Homo sapiens: one gene and its partners. The protein of the gene in region 4 purifies or fractionates together with the protein of the main gene of each other region. This does not show direct contact. Each region holds a gene or a part of one and is shown on either strand. Other genes may lie near its edges. The genes, in order: GCH1, PRCP, ACOT8 and OSBPL9.

Region 1 (5,705 bases), on a different chromosome or scaffold from region 4:
AAAAAAAAAAAACCAACCAAAAAAAAAAAAAACGAAAACCAATCAACCAAACAGACAAACAAAAAAACAGGCAAAAATTAGCTAGCATGGTGGCATGCACCTGTGGTCTCAGCTACTCGGGAGGGTGAGGTTGGAGAATCGCTTGAACCCAGGAGGTCGAGGCTGCAGTGAGCCGAGATCACACCACTGCACTCCAGCCTGGCAAGAGAGTGAATCCGTGTCCAAAAAAAAAAAAAAAAAAAAAAAGAGTAGTGCTTCATAAGGGTGCTGAAGACTTCATATTATATCACATCAGGGCCGAGTGAGGTGGCTCATGCCTGTAATCCCAGCGACTTGGGAAGTCAAGGTGGGAGGATAGCTTCAGGTCAATAGTTCAAGACCAGCAAGTGAGACTGTCTCTACCACAAAATAAATTTTTTTTTAAAATTAATTGGGCATGGTGGGTGCATACCTGTAGTCCTAGCTACTTTTTGGGAGTCTGAGGCAGGAAGATTGCTTGAGCTCAGGAGTTTCAGGTTACAGTGAACTATGATCATGCCACTGTACCCCAACCTGGGTGACAGAACAAGACCTTGTCTCTAAAAAGAAAAGAAGAGAAAGCAATCAGAAAACCCAGATACATCACATCAGAAGCCATATCGTATCTGGAAATCCTGCAATTGATAATGAAGGAATCTTTGAAAGGGAATCTATTGGTGAGCAAATTAGGCACAGAAAGCCTGTGACTTGTTCAAGAGGATAGAGAGAGTTAGTGGCTTGGCTGCAGCCAGATCCAAGGCACTGATTCTGTACTCAGCCTGTCACCATTTTATCCTGTTACTTTCTGCTATTACTTCCTCAGTGTTTGTGTTTTTGCTACCTTTGTTTTAAAAATATATTATTTAGTGATTTTTTTTTTTTTTTTGAGACAGTTTCGCTCTTGTTGCCTAGGCTGGAGTGCAGTGGTGCGATCTCGGCTCACTGCAACCTCCGCCTCCCAGGTTCAAGCAATTCTTCTGCTTCAGCCTCTCGAATAGCTGGGATTACAGGCACCCGCCACCACGCCTGGCTAATTTTTGTATTTTTAGTAGAGATGGGGTCTCACCATGTTGGCCAGGCTGGTCTTGAACTCCTGACCTCAGGCAATCCACCCAAAATGTTGGAATTACAGGTGTGAGCCACCACTCCTGGCCTATCTAGTGATTTTGTGAAATGGACATTTAAATTACCTAGGATCTTAAGACCAAAAATAGTATAAACAATGAACAAATTCCGTGTCTGCATGGAAATGTAAAAATTTCAGACAGCATAGAAGACCTTGGTTCATGGGAAAGTTTTAACTCTCTAATTTTTCTTTGAAATCCTCAATGTTCAGGTGCTATTTTACTTTTTCCTCCTGCCAACCAGGAAGGCAATGAGGTGGACTTCTCAAATTCCTAAAGCATAGTGCCAATGGATGGGGGAAAAAATCACTAAGTACTACTAGATCAATTATGTAAATAGTAAGTGAACAATGAAAACAGTGTTAGCAAACCATGATGCCGTTGAGTCTCTAATTTTATATTCGGTTAATTAATTGCCTACAAGTGACCATTTACTCTATTAATCTTTTCAGAGAACTAATGTTTTTCGTATGTAGTATTTGGCCCCAAAAGAGTAACTTTTATATTTGATATTAATTGGTGCCATTTAAGATAACAGAAATGGCCTGGCTGTATATTGGGTCCTTTAAAACTTAGTTCTTAGGGTGCAGGTTCTTGCCAAGCCATGGTGGTAGCAGTGCCCTTTTTCTCCAGTTAGGAAGATGGGGCCGGGCGTGGTGGCTCACGCCTGTAATCCCAACTCTTTGGGAGGCCGAGGCGGGCAGATCACAAGGTCAGGAGATCGAAACCATCCTGGCTAACACGGTGAAACACCATCTCTACTAAAAATACAAAAATTAGCTGGGTGTGGTGGCAGGCGCCTGTAGTCCCGGCTACTCAGGAGGCTAAGGCAGGGGAATTGCTTGAACCTTGGAGGCGGAGCTTGCAGTGAGCCAAGACTGGGCCACTGTACTCCAGCCTGGGCGACAGAGTGAGACTCCATCTCAAAAAAAAAAAAAAAAAAAAGGAAGATGGTGCACTCTCTAGCAGCTTAGAAACCAGGAAGCCAAGCACAAAAGGGTGTGGAGACCTTCTGTGCTGCAGGGCTTTGCGGTGGGATCTTAAGGCTGTGAGGTGGGATCTTAAGGCTGCTGTGATGTGTGGAATGGCAATACTTATGCTTACAGTTTTTGCCATTTAAAGGAGGCTTTCCTGTATACATTTTAGTGTTGCTATGAGATCATTTGCCTTTCCTTGAGAATGTTTCTCCTCCATAAAGAAGAAACTTTCAGATTTGTGTCAAGAGTTCAACTTCACAGGTAAGTGTCAGGGCCATGCAATTGACTCTTGAACAACATGAATTTGAACTGCATGGGTCCACTTAGACATGGCTCTTTTTCAAGCAAACACTGATCAAAAATTCTACAGTATTTGCAGGATACAAAACCTGTATAGATGGAGGGGCAACTTTTCATATATGCAGGTTCTGCAGGGCCGACTGCGGGACTTGAGTATGCAGGATTTGGGTATACACAGGGGTCCTGGAAGCAATCTCCCGCATTTACCAACGGACAACTGTACAAGTTTGTTATTTGATTAATAGACTCATACTTATATATTTTGCTTTTACTGCATTTATGTAATTTTAAAAATACATATATAAATGTTTCATTTTCTAAGTCTTAACAGTTCCAGATGTTTTCAAGGTAATACATTGTCGTGATAAATTACATAAAAGTGTACTATATTCTTTCTATATTTCCTTATTTTGTCACAAAGAAGGCACTGTATTTTCACTCAGCTAATGATTTCCGTCTCTTCTCTGAAGGTCCATATTGGTTATCTTCCTAACAAGCAAGTCCTTGGCCTCAGCAAACTTGCGAGGTAAGTGTGACTGTGCAGTGAACAAGAATACAGGTTTATAGGACCTGCCCTCATCTGCTGAGAATCTATCTCATCAGGCTTTCTCTCTTTACCTGTATGGATCTAACTTGGAAGTCATATTGCAACTTAAAGACTTGGAGGGTCTGAAACACAGATGCCCCTTCCTTCTCGTCCCCTACTGCCTGCTTCCTCTTCCACTTCCCACCCTTTCTTCCATAGATACATACATCCTGGAAGTCTCAGCCCACCTCTTTCTCTGCAGAGCCTTCTCTGACTGGAGAGGTCCTGAGCTTACCTTCAGTCCAGCCCCATCCTTTAAGGGGGGTTTAGCTAACAGTGAGGGGTTGGGGAAGAAGCTGGGCAGGGGTCTAGCTGCAGTGCTCTGCTGTCGAACTTGTTGTCAGGCCTGAGGACTCTTCTATCCTTGTCAAGGGGAGTGCTCACCTTCTTTGCTTTCATACAACACTGCTTTCAGACTTGTAATGAAACTTCCCTGTGGGATCCCCAGCCTCAACCCTGCCTTGCTCTGCACTGGATGCCTCCAGGCATATCTCAGGGGTCCTGCAGGCCAGTCCGTTCATGTCTAGGTTCTTTGTTTCTGCAAACACAAGACTGCCTGCCTTGGCTTTGCACAGCTTTATTCTGATACAGTGTTCACGCTCCTCGCTCTCATTTCTCTTTCCTGCTACAATCTTCTTTTCTGTTGTTTATCCTGTGGGTTCATGCCTTAAAAAATTCCCTTACTGCCTTTTTTATTTGGGTTTTAGGAGAGGTGATGTACATACACGTTCATCTGTGTTTAACTGGAAGTCAACATGGGGGTTTGTGTTCAGATATCTCTGGTAGGCCCCAGCCACCAATATTTTATTGCCCTTAAATATCCTTGTTGTTTCTTCGTATAAAGTTAGTGAATTTTGAGTGATGGAGGAAATACTGGGAGGTGTGTGTGTGTGTGGAGAGAGAGAGAAAGTTAAGAACAAGATGAAGGGGTCGGGTAAAGTGTTCCTACTCTTTTTTTTTTTCAAAAATAATCAAGCTAAGTTTGAATAACTTGAGGTTATAGTGACCATATCATAATTGAAATAAATGAGTCTCGGCCGGGTGCCGTCTTTCACACTTGTAATCCCAGCACTTTGGGAGGCTGAGGCGGGCGGATCACTTGAGGTCAGGAGTTTGAGACCAGCCTCACCAACATGGTGAAACCCCATCTCTACTAAAAATACAAAGATTAGCTGGGCGTGGTGGCGCACACCTGTAATCCCAGCTAATCAGGAGGCTGAGGCAGGAGAATTACTTGAACCCGGGAGGCAGAGCTTGCAGTGAGCCGAGATTGTGCCATTGCACTCCAGCCTGGGCGATGGAGTAAGACCCTATCTCAAAAAAATAAAAATAAAAGAAGAGGAATAAATGAGTCTCTGTGACCAGTTGACTGTGCTGTGGCTCTGATGTGTTCCTGTTTCTTTATGCAGGCCCTGGGATTTAACACAGTTGTGAAATGGTGGTCCTGATATTTCTCAATTCTGTGTTGGAATCTGTAAAAAAAAAACTACTCCAGCAATCTGACAACTGCCCTCTAAAGTTGTTCCTGTTACTTTGTTTTCACTTCCACTTTCTCATTCATTTCCTCTGGGGATCAATAAGAAAGTGGGTAGAAGAGACAAATTTAACTTCCCCAGTTTCTGACCTCATTCCTGCTCAGCTATTTTGCTATTAGATAGGGCTGCTTGGCACCATGAAAGAATATTATATCATAGCTGTAATTGCTTCACTGGAATAAGGCTCTTAGCACAAATCCAGAAACATTCTGGCTGCTTGCGTGTGATCCATCCCTGGTGGCAGTGCTGAAAAGTTGCTGAGAAAAAGTGTGTTGGTAGTGATTGGGAGTAATTAATCTTACTATAATTTTTATTAACGACTCCCTTCCCAGTAACTTACCCTCAACTAATGATGTATTAAACCAATTTCATGTCAACTGTGAGTAAAAGTATCTTTACTAAAATTGGTTATTCTTATGGTTTTATAATATACAGTCTAAGTAAAATCAGCATGCTTACTGTGCAAACATAGCTGTAGGCCCAGTCCCCTGGGCCTCCCTGTCAGCAAGATTGCTAACCCTATACCTTGCCCATATAGAAATTCCAGCACTGCTGATGCCTATAACAGACTGTCCATATGTGAAAGGTGTAATGGATAGTTTCATAGTGTAAAAAAGCTTGGCAGATCACATTAGGCCTTGGTCTTAATGTAACAGCCTTCTCTGAAAAACCAACTGTTGATCATGATTAACACTTTATGGGAAATGGACTCTTGAGTGATTCAGTGAGATCATACAATAAATGGCAACCTGGTGGTAGAAGGAAATAATCTTAGTTATTTCCTTTCCAAGTGAAAGGAAAAGATCTCAAATAATTAAGCTTTTATGAAACAATACAAAGGAGTTGATTATTAGCATGGGGATTTGTCCTTAGACTAATAGGATTAAAATTTAAGAATAAAATGGAACATGAAGCCAAAGAACCAAGTGTATGTTGCTTTCAAATATTTTGCAAAAAATTTGAATAAAGAGTCTATTAAATAGAAAAGAAGACTAAGATTTTATCCAACTACTTATTCCTTATAAGAAGTAAGAATATTTAGAGAATGAAGAGGAATAAAAGCTGAATGTCTTAGCAAAACTTCACTGCTCATTTTAATCTTATATATGAAGTTTGTTATATGCTTGCCTTTAAATGAATGACCTTTCAGTGCCAGTGAAGTCAA
Region 2 (5,705 bases), on a different chromosome or scaffold from region 4:
CTCCCACCTGTAATCCCAACACTTTGTGAGGTACAGGTGGAAGGAAAGATCACTTGAGGCCAGAAGTTCAAGACCAGCCTGGGCAACATAGCAAGACCCCATTTCTTTTTTTTAAAAAAAATATCCAGGCATGGTGGCACAAGCCTTTAGTCTCAGCTACTCAAGAGCCTGAGGCAGGAGGTTCACCTGAGCCCGGGAGTTTGAGGCCAAGTCTGCAGTGGGCTATGATCACAACACTGCACTCCAGCCTGGGTGACAGAGCAAGACTCTGTCTCAAAAAAAAAACCAACAAAATAAAAAAGAGGAAGAAGAAGAAGGAGAAGGAGGAGGGATGGAGGAAGGAGGGGGAGGAAGAGAAAGAAAGAAGAGGAAGAGGAAGCGAGAAGAAGGAGAAGGATGACAGCTCCTGGAGGAGGCAGAGGCAGAAGCAGCAGAGGAAGCTGCAGAAGCAGCAGCAGAAGACGCAGCAGCAGGAGCAGCAGAAGCAGAAGAAAAAAAACAGCTCCTGGAGGAGGCAGTGTTAGAGGTAGGGGTTAAAAAATGGAATGGGATTGATAAAAGAGGTAAGGCCCATGGGAGAGAGAGATTCCAGGCAAAGGGAACAATGTGGATTAACACATAGACAGGAAAGGAATGGGCATATGTGGTGAATAGATAAGCAAAATGGAAAGGCAGTTAGGGCCATAGATTGAAAGGCCTTAAATGCTACAGGATTTTGTTCTTAATAAAGCAAACAATAAAGAGTCGCAGTTTCTGAAAAGAACAGTGATTCAACTGGAGGAGAGGTGATTTATGTGACAACCCATGGGAGCTGTACCGGAGGGGGAAACTGCAGGAAGCTAGGAAGACCAACTGGTTTACTCTTCTAGTAGTCAGGGGAGGCGGTAATAGGGGCTGCAAAAAGGGGCTGTAATCACTCCCTTGCATGCAATTCTCACTACCCAGGCCTCTCTCACCTTTTTGTTCTCACTTGGCAAAAGTGCAATTCACCAACTCCACAGCCATACCCAAGAAACTGAATGTAGCTAGAGAAACATACAGCCACATCAAATGGCCTTACTAACTTACATAACAGTTACATCAAATGGCCTTACAAAGTTAGAAAAGCTGCCCTGCAATCAAACCATATGCCCCTAGTGCATTTACTTTCCTTCTCTGCTAGAGGAGCATTTCTGTTCTCTCCCTTTCTCACTCTCAGCTGATGACCTTCCATCTTATTTTGCTGGGAAAAGGGAAGCGTTCTGAGAAACAGCACACAAGTTCTCACTACCATACCACCTTCTTACCTTCATCTGTGCCTATATGATGTGCCTAACCCAGTTTGACTATGGTCAAACTGTTCATGCTCTTGTTTTTTCATTAGATCCCATTTCCTCTTGCCTAAGATATCCCACTACCAATTCTATTTCTTTCTTGTTCCGTCACTTTCTCACTCTCTCGGCTCATTTCCCTTAGCATACATTCGATTATTTCTCCCATCTTAAAAATGGGAACCCTCTCCCCCTCCATCTACCACACCATATTTCTGCTCCCCTTCACAGCAAAATTCCCCAAAAGATTACCACACTCGTGGTCTCAATTCAGCTTCTCCCATTCTCTCTTGCATCCACTCCAATGAGGCTTTCGCCTCCACTCACCCTCTGAGGAAATTGCTGTCAAGGTCACCATAACCTCCACATTGCTAAATCAAGTGGCCAATTCCCAGTCATTTATTTAGGCACTACTGGTTACCTTCTTACGGAAATGCTTTTTTCATTAAGTAATCAGGGTATCACACCCTCCTGGTTTTCCTCCTCCAACTGTTCCTTCTCAGTCTCCTTAACTGGTTCCCCATTTCCCTGACTTCTAAATATGCAGTGTTGAGAAGATCATCTTTAAAAGAAAAGATCATCTTCACTAACTCCTTTGTTGCTCTCTTCCAATCTCATGGTTTTACATACCATCTGTATACTAACAGCTTCAAATTTGTATTACTTGCCCCACCTTTCTTCTAAATTCTTGACACAATACCATTTCTGAAACCAAGTTCCTCTTCTCCTTCCTTCCCCAAACCTACTCCTTCTGCAGCTTTCCCCTTCTTGGTAAATGACAACTCCTACCTTCTAACTGCTCAGGCCAAAAACCTTGGAGTCATCTTCAATTCTTTATCTCACAACCTACATCTAATTCATCAACTATACCTCTCAGCTACACCTTCAAAAATATCCAGAATCTGAGCACTTCTCAGCCTCCACCACTACCACACTAATCCAAGCCACCATCGTCTCTAATCTGAAATTTTGCAACAACCTGGTCTTTCTGTTTACCCCCTTTCCCCTACATAGTCTATTCTCAACACAATAGCCAAAGTGTTTCTTAAGATTTATTAATCAGAGTCATTCTTCTACCCCTAAAGCTCCAAAGGCTTCTCATCTCATTCTGATTTACGGCCAAATTCCTTACAATGGCCCAGATGTCCCCGCATTATCTGGCTCCCTGAACCTCCTTTCTGTCCTCCTCTAGTACTCTCTCCCTGGGGCATGTCCCTCCAGACATACCATCCTCCCTACAGTTCCTCCCACTGAGCACACACCTACCTCAGGGTTTTTGCACTTGACCTTCCCTGCCTAGACATTCCCTGTGCCTAGAATGTTTTTCCCCATGCCTAGAATGCTCTTTCCCCAGTGCCTCGAATATAGTAGGCACCTAATAAAAAATTAGGTAAATGAATTTAGACAGACATTGAACATTCATTTTCCATTTTGCTTTTTTCATTTATTATTAACGCATAAACATTTTATCACATTGTCAGAATACTTTAAGACCATAATTTTTTGGGCTAACAATATTCCATTTTATAGACATACCACAAGTTATTTACAATTTGGGACTGAAAAACCAGGATATTTACAAATGGGATATTTTGGATGTTTCTTCCTTTGATATTTGTGAACTTCACTTCACTTTTAGAAGTGAATCTACTAGTGAGAATATGTACCTCACAGGATTGTTGTAAAGCTGAATATGAACTAATAAGTGGACACAGAGACATCAGTTTTGTTACTACTGCTTAGATTACAGAGACATCATGATGTCAATGAAAGATCATAGATCTTGAAAGAAACAGATAAAAAACATGACTCACAATATTGTCCTTTAATAGCTTAAGACACTTAACCTCTATGAGTTTCAATTAAACCATCTATTTCAAAAAGCGATTATATTAATAATAATTAAAAAGAGATGTAAAAGAGTTTAGCATAATATTGAGCTCAGAGTAGATAATCAATAAATGTTCATTCATTCACTTCTCATAAACAATACCTAGGGTTTTTAAAATTGTGAACCAGAAAGAAAAAAATATTTTTATAAATTATCCCATTACATACATATTGTTAAATAGATAATAAAAATTTTCAGTACAGAATTATTCTTTTTAATTAACAATTACTCAACACTTACCAAAGCACACTTAAGATTACAAAAATCTATATATCAATTTTGTTTCTTTTATTATAATAAAGCTAGGCAAAACAATTATTTTTAATTACTGAATGATGGTATCAATAAATAAGTTCCTTTTTATCATGTGCTTTAATGTACACACACAACAGGTCAGTAAACTATTATAATGATGACAAGTTAAGCAAGAAAACATTTTAAAAATTCGCCTCACTTCAGGGCTATTTCTTGAAGCAATCTGTGTGTTGGAGTCAGATGAATGCCAAGACATTACAAAATTTTCAGTGTTTTCCATGTTGTTTCGATATAAGTTTGAGTATATGCAGTTGGAATGGTCAACAAGTACAATTTGAACTCCTTCAGGGTATAGTCATCTATGCCTGGCCAGGACCTAGCCCAGTGCCTGACATACAAAAGACACCAGATCAGCACTGAGTAGGTAGGTAGGTGGGTGGGTAAGTGACTGATTGAGTATGGTAGTCATTAGTGCTGTCTGTCTAGGCACTACAAAGCCAATACTTTTTGTCTCCCTACCCTGTGATTGGGTACAGTCATTTAACCAGTTCTAGCCAAGGAATTGTGAGAAGAAGTGACATAAGTAATTTCCATTTTGGAGCATTCATATGAGATCTTCCATGTTCTTTTTCCACTGCTAAGTGTTCATGAAAGCATATGCTAAAAAGGAAACCCCGATCAGCCACTTAGTCTCTGAGTGAAAGCAGGAGCACAGCCCCCTGCTCATTCAATTGGAAGTTTATGACAGTAAGGGTCATACATTTTGTTAGGTTAAGTGACCGAAATTCATAAATTTTACTATAGCAGCAAAACCTAACTTATCCTGGATAATACAAGCAAGCTAATGGCATTCATTTCAGCACTAGAAATTAATCAGAGTTTAATTTCAGAAAAACAAAATGGTACAGATAAGTAGTATAGCTCAGTATAATAATTTAACCTCTCTATATGATAGTTCTCTTGCTCGCCGAGTTTGATGGCTCCTGCCTGTAATCCTAGCACTTTGGGAGACCAAGGTAAGAGAATTGCTTGAGGACAAGAGTTCAAGACCAGCCTGGGCAACATAACGAGATCCCATCTCTACAAAAAGATTAAAAAATTAGCCAGGCATTGTGGTGTACACCTGTAGTCCCAGCTACCCGGGATGCTGAGGTGGGAGGATCACTTGAGCCCATAGGTTCAAGGCTCTAGTGAGCTATGATCACATGGCTTCACTCCAGCCTGAGTGACAGAGCAAGATCCTGTCTAAAAATAAACAAACAAAAAGGATAGTTCTCTTGCCTACAAAATGGAATAATAGCATCTACCTCATAGAACAGTAATAGGGATTAATTAAGTGAATGTCTATTAAGTACTTAGGATAATATTTACGGTATTTGAAGCTTTCAATAAATGGTAGTAAATTACTATCATTAATAATGCATTAGACACATTTACACTACATATGTAATTTTACTTTCATCTCTTACTCCTTATTCATTTTAATTTATGGTCAATTTTTTCAATTCATAATATCTTTATTAAGAAGTACCATATCCTGTCAGAACCATATAAAAAAATAAAAAGAAGTACCATCCAAGGCACTAGAAATGAAGACAAATAAGATCTACCATCAAGGTATTCTCCTTACCTATGATTCTCCTTTCTTCTGCAATAGACCCACAACCAAGCAAACTTTAAAATCATAAACACAATGTTTTATTATATTATAATATAAATCAACTATGCAATATTATAAATATTGTACCAATTGAAGAGGTGATTACTTTTTAATTTAAAAACACTTTATATGTTATGGGTCTGTGTCTTATTCAAAGTCAAGATAGTAAAGTTGTTTAGGTCCAATTCATCAAAGGCAATTAATGTTATGGCAAAAAACAAAACTTGTACCCACATTCCCACTGTTCCTAACGCAGTGCCCTATAAACAGGAGGCACTCAGTGAACAAAATTATAGGTAAATCAGAGATCAGCAGATCCAATCCATTTATCTTACAAATTAGTACAATGAGATCTAGAGGGTTAGGCAACTTGCCCAAAAGTATGATGTGATTTAGTGGCAGGGCTGATCCTAGAACCCAAACTTTGAAAATGTTTTAAAAGTCTAAATTCTCTAAAGCACAAAGTTCCTGCAGTATGCTGACAGAGGAATATAAACAAGTCAGTGAAAAACCTAAAGTTAATTTTTATTGAAATTAGATTTTAGCATTAGCTAGTAAGAAATTTAAAACTCAGCTATCAGAAAGACAG
Region 3 (5,291 bases), on a different chromosome or scaffold from region 4:
GCTATCTGTTTGTGGGTCATAGAATCCTTTAGTGGGTCTTGACCAGCATTTTTAAAATACAGATTAGAAAAGAAGATACTGGAGTGAATAATATGTATGTATTAAGGGCAAGAATCCTTTTGTGAAACTTGAGGTTTAGTCATGTGTGTTTCTGGTGTGTGTCTGTACTGGGTCATGGTATAAAATGAAGGGCTTGGCCGGGTGCAGTGGCGCATACCTATAATCCCAGCACTTTGGGAAGCCAAGGCAGGAGGATTGCTTGAGACCAGGAGTTGGATACTAGCCTCGCCAACATAGCAAGACTCCATCTCTAATTTAAAAATAAGGCTGGGGCTGGGTGTGGGGGCTCATACCTATAATAACACTTTGGGAAGCCCAAGTGGGAGGATCACCTGAGCCCAGGAGTTCAAGACCAGCCTGGGCAACATGGTGAAACCCTGTCTCTATAAAAAATACAAAAATTAGCCGGGTGTCGGGGCATGTGTCTGTAGTCCCAGCTACTTGGGAGGCTGAGGCGGGGGGATCACTTGAGCCTGGGAGGTGGAGGCTGCAGTGAGCCGAGATCGTGTTACTGTGCTCCAGCCTGGGCAACAAGAGCAAGACTCTGTCTGAAAAAAGAAAAAAAGAATATATATTTTGTTGTTGTTTATATATATACATGTTTGTTTGTTTTTGAGATGGAGTCTTGCTCTTGTTGCCCAGGCTGGAGTGCAGTGACACCATCTCGGCTCACTGCAGCCTCTGACTCCCAGACTCAAGTGATCCTCCCGCCTCAGCCTCCCAAGTAGCTGGGATTACAGGCACCTGCTACCATGCCCAGCTAATTTTGTATTTTTAGTAGAGATGGCGTTTCACCATGCTATCCAGGCTGGTCTCAAACTCTTGATCTCAGGTGATCCACCCACCTTGACCTCCTAAAGTGCTGGGATTATAGGCATGAGCCACCATACCTGGGAAAAAAAACCATATATATATTTTATATATATATGTATATAGAAATACTTCCGTAACCACTTGTTAAGTACCACCTCCCCAGCCCCCTAAGTGATTCCCTCTCTCCCCCAGGCCCCTGGTCCAGCAACTTAGGACTTAATGCACACCAGGAGTGAGTGTCCTCTGGAGAGCTGCAGCGCTATGGCCTATGTTTGGTCACTGCCTTTGCATTAGTGCATGTTTTTGTTTGTTTGTTTGTTTTGAGACAGAGTCTCGCCCTGTTGCCTAGGCTGGAGTGCAGTGGCATGATCTCGGCTCACTGCAACCTCTGCCTCCCAGGTTCAAGCAATTCCCGTGCCTCAGCCTCCCAAGCAGCTGTGATTACAGGCACATGCCACCATGCCTGGCTAATTTTTGTATTTTTTTAGTAGAGACCAGGTTTCGCTATGTTGACCAGGCTGGTCTTGAACTCCTGACCTCAAGTGATCGACCTGCCTTGGTCTCTCAAAGTGCTGGGATTACAGGCGTGAGCCACCGTGCCCGGCCACATGTTTTATGTATATAAAACATATGTACAAAAATACAAATATGTATTTTCCCCTAACCATTAGACCACCAGGGAGCATGTTAGATATTTTGAATACCTGGTAAAATATATTTATTTGGATCACACCTAATCAAGTTTGAAAAATGCTGGTACAGGGGAAAGAGCTCTGGGTCCAGACAAAGGATAGACACATGGATTCTGTCCAGGGCTGTGCCTCTGTGAATGCTCACCTGCTGTGGGACAGTGCCCAACTCCCCAGGGCCCTAGTTTCTTCTTCTAAAAAATGGGAATGCTCATTTCTGCCCTGCCTACTTCTTAGCTGTATCATAAGGAGAGAATGTCTCTATCTCGTGTTAGATACTGGGGAGGCAGCAGAGTATGACGGGATGGATGTGGGTTTGGGAACCTGAAAGGCCTGGATTCAATTCTAGATTTTGTCCCTACTAGCTGTGTGAGTTTGGGCAAGTTGCTTTCCCACTCTGAGCCAGTACTCACCATTATAAAATGGTGCTAATCATATTCCTACCTCATAAGGCTGCTGTGAGGATTAAATAAGAGAGAAAAGGCACTTAGCGTGCTAGTACTAACTAGCACAATGGCAGTGAATTGTAGTTATATCACTATTAACAGAAAAAACACAGGGCCTGGTGTGTGGTTGCAGTTCGACAAATGTTTGCTGAAATGAAAGGAAGACATTGTTAAAGGACCTTGAATTTAGATCTGTGCTGTTAATAAGGTAGTCTCTAGCCACTCGTGGCTATATTACATTAATTAAAATTAAATAGGTCCGGGCGCAGTGGTTCATGCCTGTAATCCCAGTACTTTGGGAGGCCAAGGCGGGTGGCTCACCCAAGGTCAGGAGTTTGAGACCAGCCTGGCCAACATGGTGAAACCTCATCTCTATTAAAAATACACACACAAAAAAATTAGCCAGGCGTGGTGGCCCGTGCCTGTAATCCCAGCTACTCAGGAGGCTGAGGCAGGAGAGTCGCTTGGACCCAGGGGGCAGAGGTTGCAGTAAGCAAGATTGAGTCACTGCACTCCTGACTGGGCAACAGAGCGAGATTCCGTCTTAAAAAAAAAAAAACAAAAAAAAACCAAAGTCAGTAGAATGAACAATTCTGTTCCTCAGTTGCATTAGCCACATTTCAGGTGCTCCATAGTCACATGTGGCTAGTGGCTACCATAGTGTGCTGTGCAGATAGGCATTCCATCATCATAGGAGGTTCTGTCCAACAGCACTCCAGAGGATAGGGGTGAAAATGGCAGGACCTGTGCAGAGCACTATGGGTGGTTGTCACTGTATTGAAGGGAGTTCCTTGGAATGGGCTCCTCCCCCTGGGGGGATGCAATGTTCCCTACTGTGTAGGGTTTGGTAACTCAGGCCAAGTCAGGCAGCCTGTTTCTTGAGTGTTTAAAATAATGAAGTGGCTGGGCACAGCAGCTCACTCCTGTAATCCCAGCACTTTGGGAGGCTGAAGTAGGAGGATCACTTAAGGCCAGGATTTTGAGACCAGCCTGGGCAACATAAAGAGACCCCATCTCTACAAAAAAAAGTAAAAATAATCCCAGCATTTTGGGAGGCTGAGGCGGGCGGATCATGAGGTCAGGAATTCGAGACCACCCTGGCCAACACAGTGAAACCCCATCTCTACTAAACATACAAAAATTAGCTGGGCATGGTGGCAGGCGCCTGTAATCCCAGCTACTCGGGAGGCTGAGGCAGGAGAATCACTTGAACCTGGGAGGCGGAGGTTGCAGTCAGCTGAGATTGCACCACCGCACTCAAGCCTGGGTGACAGAGCTAGACTCCGTCTCAAAATAAAGAAATAATAAAAATGTTAGCCAGGCACAGTGGCGTACACCTCTAGTCCCAGCTACTCGGGAGGCCAAGGCAAGAGGATGGCTTGAGCCTGGGAGTTGGAGACTGCAGTGAGCTGATTGCGCCACTGTACTCCAGCCTGGGTGAGAAGACGACCTTGTCTCTAAAAAAATAGAAAATAATCATACTGTGGACCCAGATTGCCTGAGTCCAAATCCTGTCTCTCCAATTTTTAAGCAAGCTACCTGGACTCTGTGCTTATTTCACTGATGAAATGGGGGTGATAATAGTACCTATCTCACAGGGTTGTTGTGAGGAATACTATTGTATGTACAATGCTTAGAACAGTGCATATTACAGGGTATGCCTTATTACTATGATGTGTTGGTTAGATATTCATGATCTTGTCTTCACAGTGTTGGTTATGAGGTAGGTTACTATCATTATCCACATTTTGCAGATGGGAAAATAGACTCAGATTACTAATTAGCACGAGACCACATGGCTCGTAAGTGGCCAAGAAGGGATTCAAACGCTGCACTATCCTGCCTGCCACAGGGGAGGGGAGCTTTGGGGATATCAGGGGTCCCTGTGGAAGAATGAGGGGAGTCAGAAGAGGCAATGCAGATGTGACTCCCTCTCTTCCTGGGTCTCACCCCGACCCTCTTCCCTTTACTTTCAGGGACCCTAACCTCCAAAAGAGGTACCCATTGGCGCTCAACCGAATTGCTGCTCAGGAGGTCCCCATTGAGATCAAGCCAGTAAACCCATCCCCCCTGAGCCAGCTGCAGAGAATGGAGCCCAAACAGATGTTCTGGGTGCGAGCCCGGGGCTATATTGGTAAGAGTACCCCATGGATGGGAGGAAACCACTCTCCAAGGGGTCTACCACTCATTTGCTGTGTGGCCTTGGGCACATGAGTTCCCTTCTCTGGGCCTGTTTCCTTATCTGCATGATGGGGAAGTTGGCTTAGCTTCTCACCTGGGCCCTCTCAGCCCTTTGCATGGGGAGAAGGTGGAGATGACTATAATCCCGACACAAGGCCTTTCTGAGGAAGGCAAAAGGCACCTCGCTGGGGTTGTTGTCCAGCTTTGCTGCTAACTATAAAGTATCTTTGTGCAAATTGGAAGAAGACACCCCTTTTGGGGCCTAGAGTGGGAGACTTGGGTGGTGAAGACTGAATTTCAGTCCCTGCTCACCCCTGCCCTCCCCAAGTCGCCATCTCACTTCTCCCCTATCACACACACACACTGTAGGCCAAGCGCTCTTGTGCAGCAACCAGTCTGCACACCCATGCACGGGAGTCCCTTTTCCCCCTACCTCCGTGCAGGTCCTGAGCTGGAAAGCCCAGGAGCCCAGGGCTGATGGGGACCTGTTGCAGGCGAGGGCGACATGAAGATGCACTGCTGCGTGGCCGCCTATATCTCCGACTATGCCTTCTTGGGCACTGCACTGCTGCCTCACCAGTGGCAGCACAAGGTGCACTTCATGGTCTCACTGGACCATTCCATGTGGTTCCACGCCCCCTTCCGAGCTGACCACTGGATGCTCTATGAATGCGAGAGCCCCTGGGCCGGTGAGTGTGGGGCCGTGTGGGACAAGGGCACTGACCTTGAGTGGCAGGAGCCTGCTTTCTTGGGTGATGCTGATTTCCCGACTTCCTGTGTGGCGCTGCACAGGTCACTTCCTTTCCTTCCCTCCCAGGCTTTGGCATCTTCATCTTCAAAATGAGAGGGTGAGGCCGGGACACCTGCTCTGCTCTAAATTTCTAGAATGTGCTGGAAATGTGATTCACCTTCTCCCAGGGACCCAGTTCTAGTCCCAAAACCAGTTCAGATTCTTTGTATTACAATAGGCAAATCATATCTTCCATCTGAACCTCAGTTTCCTCATCTAAACAAAGAGGGTTACATTACAGCAGTGGTATCCAAACCCGCAGTCCATCAGACTGCCATTTGGGGATGCCTTTTCAAAATAGATTCTGATTCC
Region 4 (5,705 bases):
TGACACAGAAGTGCACAGAATAAAAACTGCAAGTCCTCTTTACTCTCCCCCCAGTAATTTGCATACATGTATGTGCATATACACTTATGTCGTGTATTTTTATTGTTTTTGTTTAAACCTAACTTAGGTTATGTGTTTCTGTGACTTGCGTTTTTCCTTTAACAAAGAACACTTAGAGCACTTTCCATGTTTGTAAAATTAGGTCTACAGCATTCTTTTTACAGCTGCCTGGGCAGGTATTGCTTGTTTTTTCCACTGATGGAAGCAATACTTCAGTGATATCCTTGTACAGCACCTTTGGCATATGTATATTTTTTTAGAAAACATTTATCAGTCTTTCACCTTTTTGCCAGTTTTATAGTTAGAAAAAAGATACTTCATTTTAATTTGCATTTTCTTTTTGTTTGTTTAAACGTTTTGTTTTTTGTTTTTGAGATGGAGTCTCACTCTGTTGCCCAGGCTGGAGTCCAGTGGCACTGTCTCGACTCACTGCACCCTCCACTTCCTGGGTTGAGGTGATTCTCCTGCCTCAGCCTCCTGAGTAGCTGGGATTAAAGATGTGCGCCACCACGCCCCACAAATTTTTGTATTTTTAGTAGAGACGGCATTTCACTATGTTGGCCAGGCTGGTCTCGAGCTTCTGACCTCAGGTGATCTGTCCACCTCCACCTCCCAAAGTGCTGGGATTACAGGTGTGAGCCACCGCGCCCAGCCTGCATTTTCTTAATTCGTTTAGGCTTAGGGTCTTTATTTTTTCTCTGTTTTACAGGGATACTATCAGTGTTAGATACTAGATTTATCTTGTTTTAAAATTAATTAAATGTATGTTGAATAACTTGTAGAACCAAACTCAAGGAAGCATCTAGCACTTTTCACACTGTTAAACCTGGAAACCAAAACCAAAACCACTCTTGAAGAAGTGGGAGATCAGCCCCTTTTGTTCATCCTCAGATTTTTTTCCCGGGTAGGATTTTTCCTGTGTAATGATGAATAATTACCCTGTGATTTAAAAAATTCGAATTAGTAAAAGTACTGATGCTATTACTTTGATCTTTACTATTTAACAGCATGGGCAGTTGCCTTTGAATTTTGAAAGAAAAAAAATAGCTCTCTTACTTGAAGCTCTTGGGAAAAGGCTGATAAGCAATTTGAATAATGAAATTGAAATATTTTGGCTGACTTCTGTATTTCCTGAGCTGTGTCACCTCTTCTTCATTTAAAAAATAGTACCTGTTTGTTGTTGTTCGTATTTTTATGTTGGAATTTTGAAACAACCAAAATTCCAAAATTTTTCTGTTTGGAAATACGTAAAACTAGCAACAGACTTTGAGAAAGTGAGAAGCTCTTCTTATGTATATTAATTTTTGTAAAAATTACTTCCAGAAGATAATCTTCTGAAAACTATTTCAGTTGAAGGTATTTCAAAAATCTAACACTTTAGAGTAGATTTAAAGAAAAATTTAAAATTAAATTCCTGTGATTTATATCTTATTTGATTTTTCATCCTAACTTCATTTTCTCCACTTTTCTTTCCCTTACTTCTCTTGTTAATACAAAAAAGAAATAAAGGAATAAGATAAAATGTTTGCTCTCCTAAGTAAATCTCAGATCTTTTGTTTGCAGTTCCCACTCAAACTTTTCTTCTTAGATACAGTTTCACTTGTGTGATCACCTGGAATATTTGCATGCTACTTAATCATTTGCAATTCTTGATCAATTTTTTTTTTATTCCAATAAGAAAAAGCTGCTTTTCTCTCTTACTTTTTCTGTTGGGTAATAAAAAGAATATGAAGTTATTTACTAATAAGGTGAGCTACCTTTGGAATTTCCAAAATAAGCATTACCTTTTAGGGGTTAAACTTTTTGTGTTATCTTTTTAAAATACCTTTGTGAATATGATGACTAAATGTGGCAAACTGATGTGCTTTTTTTCACAACTATTGAACCATACATATAGGAATGGGCAAAAAATCCGTAAGTGACTCTGGATTCTTTTTTTTTTTTTTTTGAGACAAGGTCTCACTCTGTTTACCCAGGCTGTAATGCAATGGCACAAACACAACTCACTGCAGCCTCGACCTCCTCAGATTAAGTGATCCTGCCCCAGCCTGTCGTGTAGCTGAGACCACAGGCACATGCCACCATGCCCAGCTAATTTATTTATCTATTTTTTTAAGAGATGGGGCTCTCACTTTGTTGCACAGGCTGGTCTTGAACTCCTGGCCTCAAGCAGTCCTCCCAACTGGTCCTCCCAAAGTGCTGGAATTACAGGCATGAGCCATTGTGCCTAGCCTGGATTCATTTTTATTGCTGTCTTCAATTTCTTCCAGAACTGTGGCCCTGGCTTTCAGATTGCCATCAGTGTCTTAATAAACTTTAGTCTTCACCAGACATCTGTAGATTAGTATAAATTGCCTGACTGACAGCCCTTAAATGCTCAGTAAGTTAAATTGATCTTAATACTCCATTTGTCGATTGGTTTGATACTTTTTTGTTCTTGCTTTACTAGTAGATAAGGTACCAGATGATCATCTCAGAGATTAGATGGCAGGCTTCTTTGTCTGGGTCTTCATTAATTTCCATTTCTTTAGTTAGACTATTTAGGAATAGAAAAATGTTCTTCTGAATCTTTTCATTTTCTGCATTCTTCTCATCGTAGTCCTCTATTTTTATCTCCACCTCTGAGCCCCTGACTTAGGTGGAAAAGAGGAGAGGAATTTGGATGGTGTGTGTATTTTCCATGTGATTGCCAAAAAATATTGAATGATAGGAATGTGATATCCTGCAATATTTTAATGTTTATGTGGTCTTAATATTCTTTTCATTTTGCATTCCCAGTGGCTCACTGCTGCATTTTTAGGTATCTGGATCTGCAGTGTAAAATAAGAGTCCCGGCATCCCATTGTAATCATATCTGTTGTTGGACTTGCAACTCCACAACTCATATAATCAAAAGGGCCCCCTTCCTAGTATTAATGATAATCTTTAATTATAGAATGAGGACATAGCTTTTTGTTTCATTTATTTAAAAGGCTGTGTCCTCATTTTATATCATGATTTGCCATTTTCTGTGTGGAGTTTAAATGTTGATTTTCTTTATAAATACTGTAGCGACTTTTACAAACTTAACCAAACTCTTTTTTGATTTTAGAAAAGTCTGCTTTGACTCCATCTCCCTAGTTTCTTCTCTTTCACCAATATTTTTCTCTAAAACCCTTTTAACTTCCTAGGCAGTGGCCATTCACCACCGAGTAGCAGTCTCACTTCTCCAAGCCACGTGAACTTGTCTCCAAATACAGTCCCAGAGTTCTCTTACTCCAGCAGTGAAGATGAATTTTATGATGCTGATGAATTCCATCAAAGTGGCTCATCCCCAAAGCGCTTAATAGAGTGAGTAGATGAACAGAATATGTATTTAAATGATTCTCCTGATTTTTAAAAATCTAATTTGATTTTGAGACTAGTGTTAATGACAGACTTGCCTCATCAGTTATTATTTGGGAAAATTAAAAGGGCAACCTTTTTAATAGAAGTTTTTTTATTGATGTATAATAGTTGTATGGACAACTTGTTTTTGGTTGGCTTATTGAGCAAAGCCAGTTCTGTGAGAGTTTTGATTTTAGTCCTAAGTTAATCCAAGTGGAATAAATAGCATCACCTATAGTAATGTGCCAGCGTTATTAGTTGAACCCTGGCCGTTTCTACAGTACCAACATTAGGAGAGGGTCCAATGAGAGTGAATAAGCTATGAAGCATTATACAAATAAGAGGTTTCTATTACTTTTTTCTTTTTTTAATTAGAGTGGAAATATTCAACACCTATCAGCCAGGCACTGTGCTAGGTTGATATCAAGGTTACAAAGATCCAGGCCCTGCCCACAGGGAACTTTTGGGGGAATAGGCAGACATTTATAATCTAATGAAATACGTGGTATGGTATCTTAGTCCCTTTAAGCTGCCATAACAAAATACAGTAATCTAGGTAGCTTATAAACAACAGAAATTTATTTCCTACAGTGTTATGGAGCAAAAGGGGCTTGCTGCCCAATGTGCTAGAAGCCATTACTAAGTCCCAGGTTTTTGAGGAAAGAAAAGCTTTTTATTGCAAGTCTACTTACAGGGAAATGGAAGTCCACCTCAAATCTGTCTCTCTGCACTGGCTTTAAGGCACTAATTTTATTTAAAAACGTTTAGGGAGGCCAAGTGTGGTGGCTCACGCCTGTAATCCCAGCACTTTGGGAGGCTGAGGCTGGCAGATCATGAGGTCAGGAGTTCGAGACCAGCCTGACCAACATGGTGAAACCATCTCTACTAAAAATACCAAAAAAAAAAAAAAATTAGCCAGGCATGGTGGTACATGCCTATAAATTCCAGCTACTCAGGAGGCTGAGGCAGGAGAATCACTTGAACCTGGGAGGCGGAGGTTGCAGTGAGCTGAGATCACACCACTGCACTCTAGCCTGGGCAACAGAGCAAGACTCTGTTTCCAAACAAACAACAACAACAAAAACAGTTTAGGGAGCCAGGTGTGGTGGCTTATGCCCCTAATCTCAGCAATCTGGGAGGCTGAGGTGGGAGGATCAGTTGAGCCCAGGAGTTTGAGACCAGCTTGGGCAACATGGTAAAACCCTGTCTCTAAAAAAATACAAAAATTAGCTGAGTGTGGTGGCACACGCCTGTCGTCCTAGCTACTCGGGAGGCTAAGATGGGAGAATCTCTTGAACACAGGAGGTGTAGGTTGCAGTGAGCCGAGATTGGGCTGCTGTACTCCAGCCTGGGTGACAAGAGTGAGACTCTGTCTTAAAAAAAAAAAAAAAAGAAGTAGAATTACTGATTTACTTTCATTTTACTTGTGTTTGTTGTAGATGTATTAATAGCTTAGTTTTTGTTGGGAATTACTTCTAATTCTGCTTTCTCAGGGGACTGTTACTATACTGTTACTATAGCTAGGGTTTTTGCTTTTTAACACAGTACAAATTTGGAAATAATTAAATGTAAATTTGCAAGCCAATTACCTTCAGCCAGTCCTATGTGGTCTAGGTGAATATATATAGTTAAGACGTGGAAGGGAGGTTTAAATCTACAACTAAAGAAGGCCAGTGTAGCAGAAAGGGCTTAGTTTAGCATATTGGTTTCTTTTTTTCATTTTGAATGTTAAAACATAAACTATTGAGAAACCATTGTTAGCAGTTTGCCAATAGAAATTTAATTTTGGAAAAAAAGTTTTTATAATAATGGGGTTAAAAGAAAATAAGCATTTGGAAGAAAATTCGAAAATGAAAGGTTATTATTAATTTTTGAAGGGTTCAGTCATTATTTTATTTAAAAGAGAATTAAAGACCGTCTTTTTTTTTTTTTTTTTTTTTTTTTTTGAGACACAGTCTTTGTCGCCCAGGCTGGAGTGCAGTGGCGCCATCTTGGCTCACTGCAAGCTCCGCCTCCCGGGTTCACGCCATTTTCCTGCCTCAGCCTCCCGAGTAGCTGGGACTACAGGCGCCCGCCACCACGCCTGGCTAGTTTTTTGTATTTTTAGTAGAGACGGGGTTTCACCGTGTTAGCCAGGATGGTCTCGATCTCCTGACCTCATGATCAGCCCGCCTCGGCCTCCCAAAGTGCTGGGATTACAGGCATGAGCCACCGCGCCCAGCCTTTTTTGAGACGGAGTTTTGCTCTTGTTGCCCAGGCTGGAGTGCAATGGTGCAATC

Evidence for each region.
Region 1: the proteins of OSBPL9 (region 4) and GCH1 purify together in Homo sapiens (affinity purification with mass spectrometry; one large-scale study listed by BioGRID and IntAct). This does not show direct contact.
Region 2: the proteins of OSBPL9 (region 4) and PRCP fractionate together in Homo sapiens (co-fractionation; one large-scale study listed by BioGRID). This does not show direct contact.
Region 3: the proteins of OSBPL9 (region 4) and ACOT8 purify together in Homo sapiens (co-immunoprecipitation; one large-scale study listed by IntAct). This does not show direct contact.

Annotation. Positions count from the first base shown.
Region 1 is NC_000014.9:54,856,921-54,862,625, reverse strand, and holds part of GCH1 (GTP cyclohydrolase 1), read left to right. Parts: intron 1-2,889; coding exon 2,890-2,945; intron 2,946-5,705. UniProt on the Homo sapiens protein: Positively regulates nitric oxide synthesis in umbilical vein endothelial cells (HUVECs). May be involved in dopamine synthesis. May modify pain sensitivity and persistence.
Region 2 is NC_000011.10:82,889,089-82,894,793, forward strand, and holds part of PRCP (lysosomal Pro-X carboxypeptidase isoform 1 preproprotein), read right to left. Parts: intron 1-5,705. UniProt on the Homo sapiens protein: Cleaves C-terminal amino acids linked to proline in peptides such as angiotensin II, III and des-Arg9-bradykinin. This cleavage occurs at acidic pH, but enzymatic activity is retained with some substrates at neutral pH.
Region 3 is NC_000020.11:45,843,114-45,848,404, reverse strand, and holds part of ACOT8 (acyl-coenzyme A thioesterase 8), read left to right. Parts: intron 1-3,984; coding exon 3,985-4,142; intron 4,143-4,632; coding exon of another isoform or gene 4,633-4,667; exon of another isoform or gene 4,668-4,683; coding exon 4,684-4,878; intron 4,879-5,128; exon of another isoform or gene 5,129-5,291. UniProt on the Homo sapiens protein: Catalyzes the hydrolysis of acyl-CoAs into free fatty acids and coenzyme A (CoASH), regulating their respective intracellular levels. Displays no strong substrate specificity with respect to the carboxylic acid moiety of Acyl-CoAs.
Region 4 is NC_000001.11:51,762,592-51,768,296, forward strand, and holds part of OSBPL9 (oxysterol-binding protein-related protein 9), read left to right. Parts: intron 1-3,230; coding exon 3,231-3,390; intron 3,391-5,705. UniProt on the Homo sapiens protein: Interacts with OSBPL11 to function as lipid transfer proteins.